3 linked regions of the Homo sapiens genome follow. The protein of the gene in region 1 purifies or fractionates together with the protein of each later gene. This does not show direct contact. Each region holds a gene or a part of one and is shown in the gene's direction. Other genes may lie near its edges.

Region 1 (3,681 bases):
CTCTCCTTTAATAGGAGAGGGTCATGGGGGATTTTGTCCTAGGAAGATTGATATTACCAATTCTAATCAATGAAACTGTACTGTTCCTTCATGTTATTTTTAAGATGTAAACAATCCTTCAAATGAGAAGGCACACTAGCACTTAAGCACTTTTTCTTTTTTCCTAGAGTGTTTACTAAAACACAGGCACTTTTTCATTTATTTAAAGATAGACTCCTCAGCAGATTATCACAGTGTTCAGTGTTGTTCTCTGTAACTGACATTTTTTTTGTGGTGAAATTCTGCCTTCAACCGGGCGCGGTGACTCACGTCTGTAATCCCAGCACTTTGGGAGGCCAAGGCCAGTGGATTACTTGAGGTCAGGAGTTCAAGACCAGCCTGGCAAACATGGTGAAACCCCGTCTCTACTTAAAATACAAAAATTAGCCAGGCGTAATGGCACACACCTGTAATCCCAGCTACTCGGAAGGCTGAGGCAGGAGAATCGCTTGAACCCGGGAGGCCGAGGTTGCAGTGAACCAAGATCAAGCCACTGCACTCCAGCCTAGGGGACAGAGTGAGACTATCTCAAAAAAAAAAAAAAACAAAACTCTTCCTTCTTCATTTTCAAATCCTTAAACATGCGTTTCTTATCAATAAAAGGACTGTTGTAATGGGTACTGCAAGTTCAACACATTTTTGAGAGTGCCTTACTTTTCTAAGTAGTTTCCCAATTTAGGATACGCATTGGGTGTGTTGAGGTTTCTAAACAGCTTTTCATACTGTTGTGTTAATTTACTACAGTTTCACAGTGTCTTTAATTGGCCTTTATGTACAGTTTTTTGATGTGATGCAGAAGTAGGATGAAGTAAATACCATTTCTTTTTTTAATTAGCCCTACTGCCAATAAAGGGAAAATAAGAGATGCTCATCGACGAATTATGCTTTTAAATCATCCTGACAAAGGTAAGTAGTCATTAAATTCTCGTTGATGTTGTTGGTGTGACCAATAGTTATTAATGGGATAATTTTATCTCAAATTCCTGGCTATTAGAAAGGTAACACTTAAATCTGTAAGTCCTGTCTCCTAGGCTGGAGCCATATATTTTTGGTGTCTTAAAAGAAATTAAGTGAAAACTTTACTTACAGAATGAGCAGATGTAAGTGCTACTATTACTATGTTTTGTGGGTTTTTCTGGCCTACATTTATTATAATTAAAACGTTAAATTTCGTAAAACTAAAATGTAATTTTTCCTTATCCATTTTAGATACCTTGAAACGGAGATTACCTAGATAGAAACTTATGGGATTTATTTATTCGTTTGTGATAGACTTCTATGCAGCCTTGGCTGTGTTGAAGGAAAGCAAGAATTTCTTTGAATACCAAAAAATAGACCACAGAATTCATGTTCTAGTGTTTGTATCCTTTTACTTATACAGGAGAGGGCTTTCATTAATAAAAAGGGTTTTGACATTTTAAACAGGGTTATAATTGTTTGATATCTACTTCACAGTATCTTTTATGAAATTTAGCTTGTTTTATATGGAGGGCTTCTGACTCAGTAGGTCGGCAGTGGAGCCCCATAAATATGCATTTATACTAAATTTCCTGTTATTTCTTGCTGGTCTTAGGACCATACTTTGAGAATCACTCCTCCAGCAGATTCGTAGGAAAGCAGCTGTAGATGACATTGTGAAGGGACAGTAGATAACAGGAAAAGAAAAACTGGACAGAAAAAGGATGTAAAGCAAACTGGGATCTTTCCAGTAAACAGCTCAGAAGCCTCTGAGAATATCATGGTATTAAAATAACATGGTATAATTGATGTTCATTTATGACCTGTAATCATGAATAGGCTAACACCAGTTCAAAGGCATATACATATATATCTAATATATATGATAGAAATCCTATTTCTATCAGTTTAAGCTTTCTAAAAAGGTGTTATTTTTGTAGAAATATCTCCCACGTAAATTACTTCATTTCTCATTGGTCACATATATTACCATATATTTGGTCATCCAGTTGCAGTGTCAGGGTTATTTTTTAAAAATTAAAACACTGTTTCTGCTAAATCTCCCTCAGATAAGCATTGGAGTCCTTGAAACAAGAGTAGCTTTTTACCAAGCAGAAATTGAGAATCCATATTGTAACTGTTCTTTTTTCTTTCTTCCTATAGGAGGATCTCCTTATATAGCAGCCAAAATCAATGAAGCTAAAGATTTACTAGAAGGTCAAGCTAAAAAATGAAGTAAATGTATGATGAATTTTAAGTTCGTATTAGTTTATGTATATGAGTACTAAGTTTTTATAATAAAATGCCTCAGAGCTACAATTTTAAAAAATGATTTAGCACAAGCTAAATCTCAAAGCCTTGGTATAATTTTCTTGTTTAAATTTGGGGATTTTAAATCAGATTATAGTTTAGAATATTTGCGTATTAATTATGGGCAAGCACACACCTTCTGAATAGAAATATTGTTCATTACTCATTTAGCAGATAATTTGGGACCTATGTCTACTTTTCAAGGCAAAGTGAAGATGACAGTCCTTGCTCTCAGGGAGCCCCCACTTTAATGGGAGACTGATAAACTGGTAATTAGACTGTGATAAATAGTATGATGGAAATTAGCTTAAGCTGTTTAAGTAGGGACTCTTCTTATTCGGTGGAAAGGCTGTTCCAGGTACAGGCAACTGGCCTGGCAACTTGGATACTTGGAACCTTGTATTTAAAAGTGAATTTAACCACAACTGAGACCTAAGAAATTGACCTAGGGGTGTGTGTGTGTGTGTATTCTATGTACATATAAACCATTTTTATTTCATGCATTAAAAATAGTATGATAAAGATTTCAGAGTACAGGTCTGGTACAATCACAGTTCATTGCAGCCTCAACCTCCTGGGTTTAAGCAGTCCTCCCGCCTCAGCCTCCCAAAGTACTGGGATTACAGGCATGAGTATTTACATTGTATTCAGCTAGCCCCTTAAAGGTAATGACCATTTATAAATTATTCCTTCAGTTGGCTATTTCTTGACATAATCAAACTTCTGCAATTGTTATGATTAAGCTTAAACCCTGTTAGCAAAACTGAAAACTGAAATGTTCTCAATATCAACATATTTAATTTGGACTCTTTAGAATTTATACACTAATAAATTTAAATGATGTTTAAAGGCAAATTACTTACTGTTTGTCTAACATAAAATATATAAGGATCTTAAGAGGACCTGTATAAAACATCTGGTATAAACTAGTATGTATTTCTCAACAGGAGTATTTCTTATGTGTAGCTCTAAGATGATAAATTATACTACCTACCGTCTAAACTTCCTTAAGTCATCATAAGTTTCTTAATTATTGGAGGATACAAGGACTTTTGAGGTTAAAAAAATAGTGGAGGTAATATTTATCTGCCTTATAAAGTAAAGGTATATCTGCTCTTTGTGTTTTCTATCCAATACCCTCGTTTAAAATCTGATGGAGTCTGTTATGATTTAGTGTATGATGAAACACTAGCTTCTAAGGCTTTTATGCAGGATAAATTATTTCCAGGGACAAGGAGACATGAAAGTACAGCTGGTTCTTGTTTGTGGTAATTCTGTTCTTTAAGGTGGCTATGAACACTGAATTAGCAAATAAGGAACAAGTTCCTAAGAGAAATACAGATTCTGTGACCCTTTGGTCACAATATTGTCTGC
Region 2 (3,653 bases), on another chromosome or scaffold:
CTTGATGCTTAGGTGGGAGAATAAGGTAGAAACTCTGGGTGATAGAACGCTGTCTTAATCCAGTGTTCCCGCAACCAAAAAATGAGTGTCGGGGCCAGGCATGGTGGTTCAGCCTGTAATCCCAGCACTTTGGGAGGCTGAGGTGGGTAGATCACTGGAGATAAAGAGTTTGAGACCAGCCTGCTACACATAGTGAAACCCCGTCCCTACTAAAAATACAACAATTAGCCGGGCATGGTGGTTCAGGCCTGTAATCCCAGCTACTCGGGAGGCTGAGGCAGGAGAATTACTTGAACCCGGGAGGTGGAGGCTGCAGTGAGCCAAGATTATGCCATCGCGCTCCAGCCTGAGGGATAGAGCAAGACTCTGTCTCAAAAACAAACAAAAAAAGAGTGTCAGACTTGTACATTCTCTCATTGCCTCGTGCCTGATCTGAAGTCTGCACGAAGACCCGCCTTCACGGCTTAGCTGGTAAGCATGTGCTTTGTTTCCTGTCTAGTGTGTACTGTAAGCACGGTCACCTGTGTCCCATCGACACCGGCCTCATCGAGAAGAATATCGAACTCTTCTTTTCTGGTTCAGCAAAACCAATCTATGATGATGACCCATCTCTTGAAGGTAAGGAATAGTCCGGGATTATGTTTGGGGCACACTTTAAAAACAGCCAGGCAGGGTGGCTCACATCTGTAATCCTAGCACTTTGGGGGTCTGAGGCCAGAGGATCACTTGAGCCCGGGAGTTTGAGACGAGCCTGGACAACATAGCAAGAGCCTGCCTCTATTAAAAAAAAATATATAGCATATATATATAGTATACATATATACTTATATATATGTATAAATAAAAAACATACTTATGAAGCAATAGTCAGCTGGAGTTGCTGCTGCCTCTTAAAGTTAGGGTGTGAGACTTTGTGCCAGGAGCAGCTGTAGGCCAAGTCATTGTGATGACTGAGGAGCACCCGACCTGGCTGATGGGATGTCTGCTGAGTGGGCGCTTAGAGCGCCTCCTGGGTTTGGGATGTGAGTCAGAGCCTTTAGTCCATTTCCTTTTTCTGCTCTAGGTGGTGTTAATGGCAAAAATCTTGGCCCCATAAATGAATGGTGGATCACTGGCTTTGATGGAGGTGAAAAGGCCCTCATCGGCTTCAGCACCTGTAAGTGTGTGGCCCATCATAGGCTGGCCGGGGTCTGAAAGGGGCCTTCATGTTCTCCTTCCTGGGGGCTGACGGGGCTCTGGTGGGAATTCTCAGCAGGCTTGCAGAAGGCCATGTGACTGGGAACCTTAGCAGGTTCAGTTGGGGTAGCCTCTTGTGTTAGTTATGACTGGCTCTGGAACTGACTCTCCAGTTGTAAGAGCAGGTCTTGGCCGGATATGGTGGCTCACACCTGTAATCCCAGCACTTTGGGAGGCCGAGTTGGGGGGATCATTTGAGGCCAGGAATTCGAGACCAGCCTAGCCTGGCCAACATGGTGAAACCCCCTCTCTACCAAAAATACAAAAATTAGCCACGCATGGTGGTGCATACCTGTAATCCCAGCTACTTGGGAGGCTATGGCAGGAGAATCACGTGAACCCAGCAGACAGAGGTTGCAGTGAGCCGAGATCACGCCACTGCCCTCCAGCCTGGGTGACGGAGCAAGACTCTGTCCTCCCCTGAAAAAAAAAAAAGAGCAGGTCTTATTCTTGCAACCCAAACCCAGACTGAATTCCAAACACCAGAGATGAGCTCAATGAAGGCCTACTCAGCTAGTCTTCGCTCTCTGGCTGGCTCAGACAGGCTTCTTCAGAACAAGCCAGCTATGATGTGTTGTGCCCTATGTTTCTGACATTTGGGTACGGGATGACTTTTAGACTGTTGGGTGAGTTTGGTAGACTCCTCCATGCCCTGTGGCCACTGTAGGCGCCATCAGATTCCAGCCCCTTTTCCACACCTCCTCTGTTCACCCCAGCATTTGCCGAATACATTCTGATGGATCCCAGTCCCGAGTATGCGCCCATATTTGGGCTGATGCAGGAGAAGATCTACATCAGCAAGATTGTGGTGGAGTTCCTGCAGAGCAATTCCGACTCGACCTATGAGGACCTGATCAACAAGATCGAGGTAAGAGATCGAGGGTCCTCAGCATCCGGGATTCCCACTGGAAACTTGCCTTCAGAACCAGCAGACACTGTTCTTCAGTTGGATTTAGGCCAGTTTGGCTTAAGCATGAGAGAAACCTGTTCTCTTTCAAGACCACGGTTCCTCCTTCTGGCCTCAACTTGAACCGCTTCACAGAGGACTCCCTCCTGCGACACGCGCAGTTTGTGGTGGAGCAGGTGGAGAGTTATGACGAGGCCGGGGACAGTGATGAGCAGCCCATCTTCCTGACACCCTGCATGCGGGACCTGATCAAGCTGGCTGGGGTCACGCTGGGACAGAGGTAAGGATGCGGCAGGGACCAGAGTGAAGACTGGAGACCGGGGAGGGTAGAGCATGGCCCACATCCTCTGTCCCAGTCCTCTGAGATGCTGGAACCTCTCCCGTAGGCGAGCCCAGGCGAGGCGGCAGACCATCAGGCATTCTACCAGGGAGAAGGACAGGGGACCCACGAAAGCCACCACCACCAAGCTGGTCTACCAGATCTTCGATACTTTCTTCGCAGAGCAAATTGAAAAGGATGACAGAGAAGACAAGGAGAACGCCTTTAAGCGCCGGCGATGTGGCGTCTGTGAGGTAACCTCACCTGTGGGTGCTCCCGCTCCCCTAAGGTGGCCCAGCCTCTGGCCTGATCTGAGGACTGCTCCATCTTTCTCTCTGTGGCTTGAGACTCTGGCTGCTCAAATGTGACCCCTGAGACAGAAATTAGTTAGTGGTCTGGGAGGACCCTGCATACTTCATTGAACGTCAATAGGACAGATGTCCACAGAGGCATGCTTGGGTGCTTTGCTGATAATGCCACTGTCCTTAATTGAAGAGCCTGGCTTCTGGGTGGCTCTGCTGTGCCTGCATCTCACAGTCTGAAGGCCCCTGTTGGACTGCTAAAGGGGTATTCACATCTAAGTGGGCACTTTGTCCAGCTTAGATTTGAGGCCCTCAGGAGGCGTCCCTTTCTGTGAGTTTTTAAAATATATGTTTACTTCACTCAGGAGGAACTAACTTCCTAGTCCTATGACCCAAAGACCAGGACTATTTTGATACCTATTACCTGACTTTCTTTTGGATAAAGACTGGCTTCAGGGCTTTGCTTTTGATCCCCGCTGGCATCTCTTAACAGGAGCCTGCATGTCCTCACCATTGTTATTTTGGTTTTATTTTATTTTTCTTGGTTAACACACGTGTGTCCAATGTTTTATAACTTCTAAAATCTTTTTTTTTTTTTTTTAATTTTTTTGAGACAGTCTCTCTCTGTCACCCAGGCTAGAGTGCAGTGGCACCATCTCAGCTCACCGTAACCTCCGCCTCCCGGGTTCAATCAGTTCTCCCACCTCAGCCTCCCGAGTGGCTGGGATTATAGGCACCCGCCACCATACCCGGCTAATTTTTTTTGTATTTTTAGTAGAGATGGGGTTTCACCATGTTGGCCAGGCTGGTCTTAAACTCCTGACCTTAAGTGATCTACCTACCTCGGCCTCCCAAAGTGCTGGGATTACAGGTGTGAGCCACTGTGCCC
Region 3 (3,653 bases), on another chromosome or scaffold:
GGCAGAGCCCTCCTGAACTAAATGCCTCTTAAAGGTCCCACCTCTTAACAGGATTACAGTGGCAACTAAGTTTGCCATTGTTCTCAACTCAAACTTGAGTTTTGAAGGAGATAAACACTGGAATTTTTACTGGAAGTGGGCCCTGATCCAGACCCCAAGAGAGGGTTGTTGGATCTCGCACAAGAATTCGAGAGAGTCGCCAGGCGCGGGGACTCACGCATGTAATCCCAGCACTTTGGGAGGCAGAGGCGAGCGGATCACGAGGTCAGGAGATCAAGATCCTGGCTAACATGGTGAAACTCCATCTCTACTAAAAATACAAAAAAATAGCTGGGTGTGGTGGCCTGCGCCTGTAGTCCCAGCTACTCGGGAGGCTGAGGCAGGAGAATCACTCGAACCCAGGAGGCGGTGGTTGCAGTGAGCCGAGATTGCATCACTGCACTCCAGTCTGGGCGACAAAGCGAGATTCCATCTCAAAAAAAAAAAAAAAAAAAAAAAGGCGAGAGAGTCTATAAAGTGAAAGCAAGTTTATTAAGAAGGTAAAGGAGTAAAGAATGGGGTACTCCATAGGCAGAGGAGCTGCTTGGGCTTGTCCACGAAGGATACCTACAGTTAGTTATTTCTTGATTTTATGCTAAACAATGTGTGATTATTCATAAGTTTTCAGGGAAAGGGGGACCCCTAAGGTTCCTCCCCTTTTTAGACCACATAGGGTAACTTCTTGATGTTGCCATGGCATTTTTAAACTGTCATGGTCTGGTGGGAGTGTCTTTTAGCATGCTAATGCATTATAATTAGCACATAATGAGCAGTGAGGACTAGCAGAAGTCACTCTCCTCTCCATCTTAGTTTTGGTGGGATTTGGCTGGCTTCCTTACTACAACCTGTTTTATCATCACGGTCTTTATGACCTGTATCTTGTGCCCACACCCTATCTCATCCTGTAACTTAGAATGCCTAACCTCCTGGGAATGCAACCCAGTAGGTCTCAGCCTCATTTACCCTCATTTTGCCCCTACTCCAGATGGAGTCACTCTGGTTCAAAAGTCTCTGACAGAACTGTAACAAGAAGTATAATTGTTACTCATTATTATAGCTGTTTGAGGATTAAATGGGATGATAGAAGTAAAGCCTGTAGTACTAAACCTGGTATATAATAAGAACCCATTTAATGTATTCATTTACTCAACAAATATTTATTAAGTAAATTTTTTTTTTTCTTGAGACAGGGTCTTGCCATGTCATTCAGGCTGGAGTGTGGTGGCATGATAGCTCACTGCAGCTTCAACTTCCTGGGCTCAAGTGTTTTTTTTGTTTTCATTTTTATTTATTTATTTATTTTGAGATGGAGTTTTGCTCTTGTCACCCAGGCTGGAATGCAATGGCATGATCTTGGCTCACTGCAACCTCCGCCTCCCAGGTTCGAGTGATTCTCCTGCCTCTGCCTCCCAAGTATCTGGGATTACAGGCGCCCAACACCATTCCTGGCCAATTTTTTTGTATTTTTAGTGGCGATGGGATTTCACCACGTTGGCCAGGCTGGTCTCGAACTCCTGACCTCAGGTATCTACCTGCCTTGGCCTCCCAAAGTGCTGGGATTACAGGCATGAGCCACCATTCCCGGCCTACTTACTATTTTTTTTTTTTTAAATGTTGGATGTATTTCATTCTGTGGTAGTTTCTTTTTTTTTTTTTTTTTTTTTTTTTGAGAGACAGGTCTCACCCTGTTGCCCTGGCTAGAGTGCAGTGGCATGATCACAGCTCACTGCAACTTCCGCCTCCTGAGATCAAGCAATTCTTCTACCACAGCCTCCCAAGTAGCTGAGACTACAGGCGCACACCATCACACCCATCTAATTGTTGTATTTTTTGGTAGAGATGGGGTTTCACTGTGTTGGTCAGGCTGGTCTTGAACTCCTGACCTCAAGTGATCCACCCACCTCGGTCTCCCAAAGTGCTGGGGTTACAGGCGTGAGCCACTGCACTCGACCAGTGGTATCATTTGTTTTGCCGCTCCCCTAATGCTGGATGTTTCCAGCTTTCTACTATTTTTTAAATGTTTCGATGAGAGTTGTTCTCTATGCATGTGCAAGTACTTGTCAGATTATTTCCTTATAATAAATTCCTAGAAGGTGGATTGCTACAAACAAGAAATGTATGTATTTTTGATACTTTTGATTTACATATTCAGAATAATATCCTGAAAGAACATACCAGTTTTCGTCTCACCAGCAGTAAATCTGAGTACTTACAGTTTTTAGTATACAGAGTTGATATATAATGTACCTTTAACTCTTAACAAATCCTGACAAAAAAAGGAGATTGTTCTGTTTATTTAAAAAAAAACTACTTAGTTTTTAACTTTTATCTTTTTCTAGGTTACAGTTCCTCTGAGTCATCTCATCAATGCCTTCCATACACCAAAAAACACTTCTGTTTCTCTCAGTGGAGTGTCAGTTTCTCAAAACCAGCATCGAGATGTAGTTCCTGAGCATGAGGCTCCCAGCAGTGAGGTAAGTCTTTATCCTGGTTGTGTGAGAAAGCCTTTTTGATATACAGTTGACCCTTAAACAAATGAAGGATTAAGGATATTGTCCCTCCCCCGTAGTCAAAAATTTGAGTATAATTTTTGACTCCTGAGAAACTTAACTACTAATACCCTACTATTGACCAGGAAGCCTTACCGATAAAATAAAGGGTCCATTAACATATATTTTGTATATTTTATGTATTGTGTACTGTATTCTTACAATAAAGTAAGATGGAGAAAATGTTATTAAGAAAATCATAAGGAAGAGAAAACATATTTACCATTCATTAAGTAGAAGTGGACCATCATAAAGATCTTCATTATCTTCAAGTTGAGTGGGCTGAGGAGGAAGAGGAGGGGTTGGTTTTTCTGTCTCTGGTGGCAGAGACCGGAGAAAGTCCACGTATCTGTGGATCTGTGCAGCTTTAATCTGTGTTGTTCAAGGATCACCTGAGGTCAGGAGTTCAAGACTAGCCTGACCAATATGGTGAAATCCCATCTCTACTAGAAATACAAAAATTAGCCGGGTGTGGTGGCGTGCGCCTGTAGTCCCAGCTACTCAGGAGGCTGAGACAAGAGAATAGCTTGAGCCTAGGAGGCAGAGGTCGCTGTGAGCCAAGATCGCACCACTGCACTCCAGCCTGGGTGACAACAAGACTCTGTCTCAAAAATAAATAAATAAATAAATATAAAAATGTAATCTCATTTTTTGGTTTAATCTAAAAAAAAACACCTGTTTTTACAGGGAAGTGGAATAGGTAGGGATTTAAGAAGTAAATAAAACTCTTAAAAAAATAAAGGACCAGCAGATTTAGGGAGCAGCTCATACTTCTAGGGCTGAGATAGAGTCAGGAAGAGTTCTCCATCCCCAGGGCTGAGATCCTGACATTGTTGGCGAAGGCATGGCCTTGGCTCACTGAATGGTAGAAAAGTTGCTGTGATGTCATGCCAGGGTAACGTGCTAGAAATCTGGGAAGTCTGCCCTCTAGGATACTGGGAAAAGCTGTTCCTGGGGATGTGTCCTACTAGAGAAGCTGTTACACGAGTGGTGCCAGGGGAAGCTGCTAGGTCCTGCTGGCCATTGTGCACGCCAGGAGCCAGGGTTTGGTGAAACTGCACAATT

What was found.
Region 2: the proteins of DNAJC19 (region 1) and DNMT1 purify together in Homo sapiens (affinity purification with mass spectrometry, with the first as the bait; one large-scale study listed by BioGRID). This does not show direct contact.
Region 3: the proteins of DNAJC19 (region 1) and YME1L1 purify together in Homo sapiens (affinity purification with mass spectrometry, with the first as the bait; one large-scale study listed by BioGRID). This does not show direct contact.

Annotation. Positions count from the first base shown.
Region 1 is NC_000003.12:180,983,190-180,986,870, reverse strand, and holds the end of DNAJC19 (mitochondrial import inner membrane translocase subunit TIM14), read left to right. Parts: intron 1-874; coding exon 875-945; intron 946-2,160; coding exon 2,161-2,231; 3' UTR 2,232-3,162; downstream 3,163-3,681. UniProt on the Homo sapiens protein: Mitochondrial co-chaperone which forms a complex with prohibitins to regulate cardiolipin remodeling.
Region 2 is NC_000019.10:10,153,356-10,157,008, reverse strand, and holds part of DNMT1 (DNA (cytosine-5)-methyltransferase 1), read left to right. Parts: intron 1-499; coding exon 500-618; intron 619-1,063; coding exon 1,064-1,156; intron 1,157-1,952; coding exon 1,953-2,104; intron 2,105-2,235; coding exon 2,236-2,423; intron 2,424-2,529; coding exon 2,530-2,716; intron 2,717-3,653. UniProt on the Homo sapiens protein: Methylates CpG residues. Preferentially methylates hemimethylated DNA. Associates with DNA replication sites in S phase maintaining the methylation pattern in the newly synthesized strand, that is essential for epigenetic inheritance.
Region 3 is NC_000010.11:27,147,766-27,151,418, reverse strand, and holds part of YME1L1 (ATP-dependent zinc metalloprotease YME1L1), read left to right. Parts: intron 1-2,378; coding exon 2,379-2,513; intron 2,514-3,653. UniProt on the Homo sapiens protein: ATP-dependent metalloprotease that catalyzes the degradation of folded and unfolded proteins with a suitable degron sequence in the mitochondrial intermembrane region.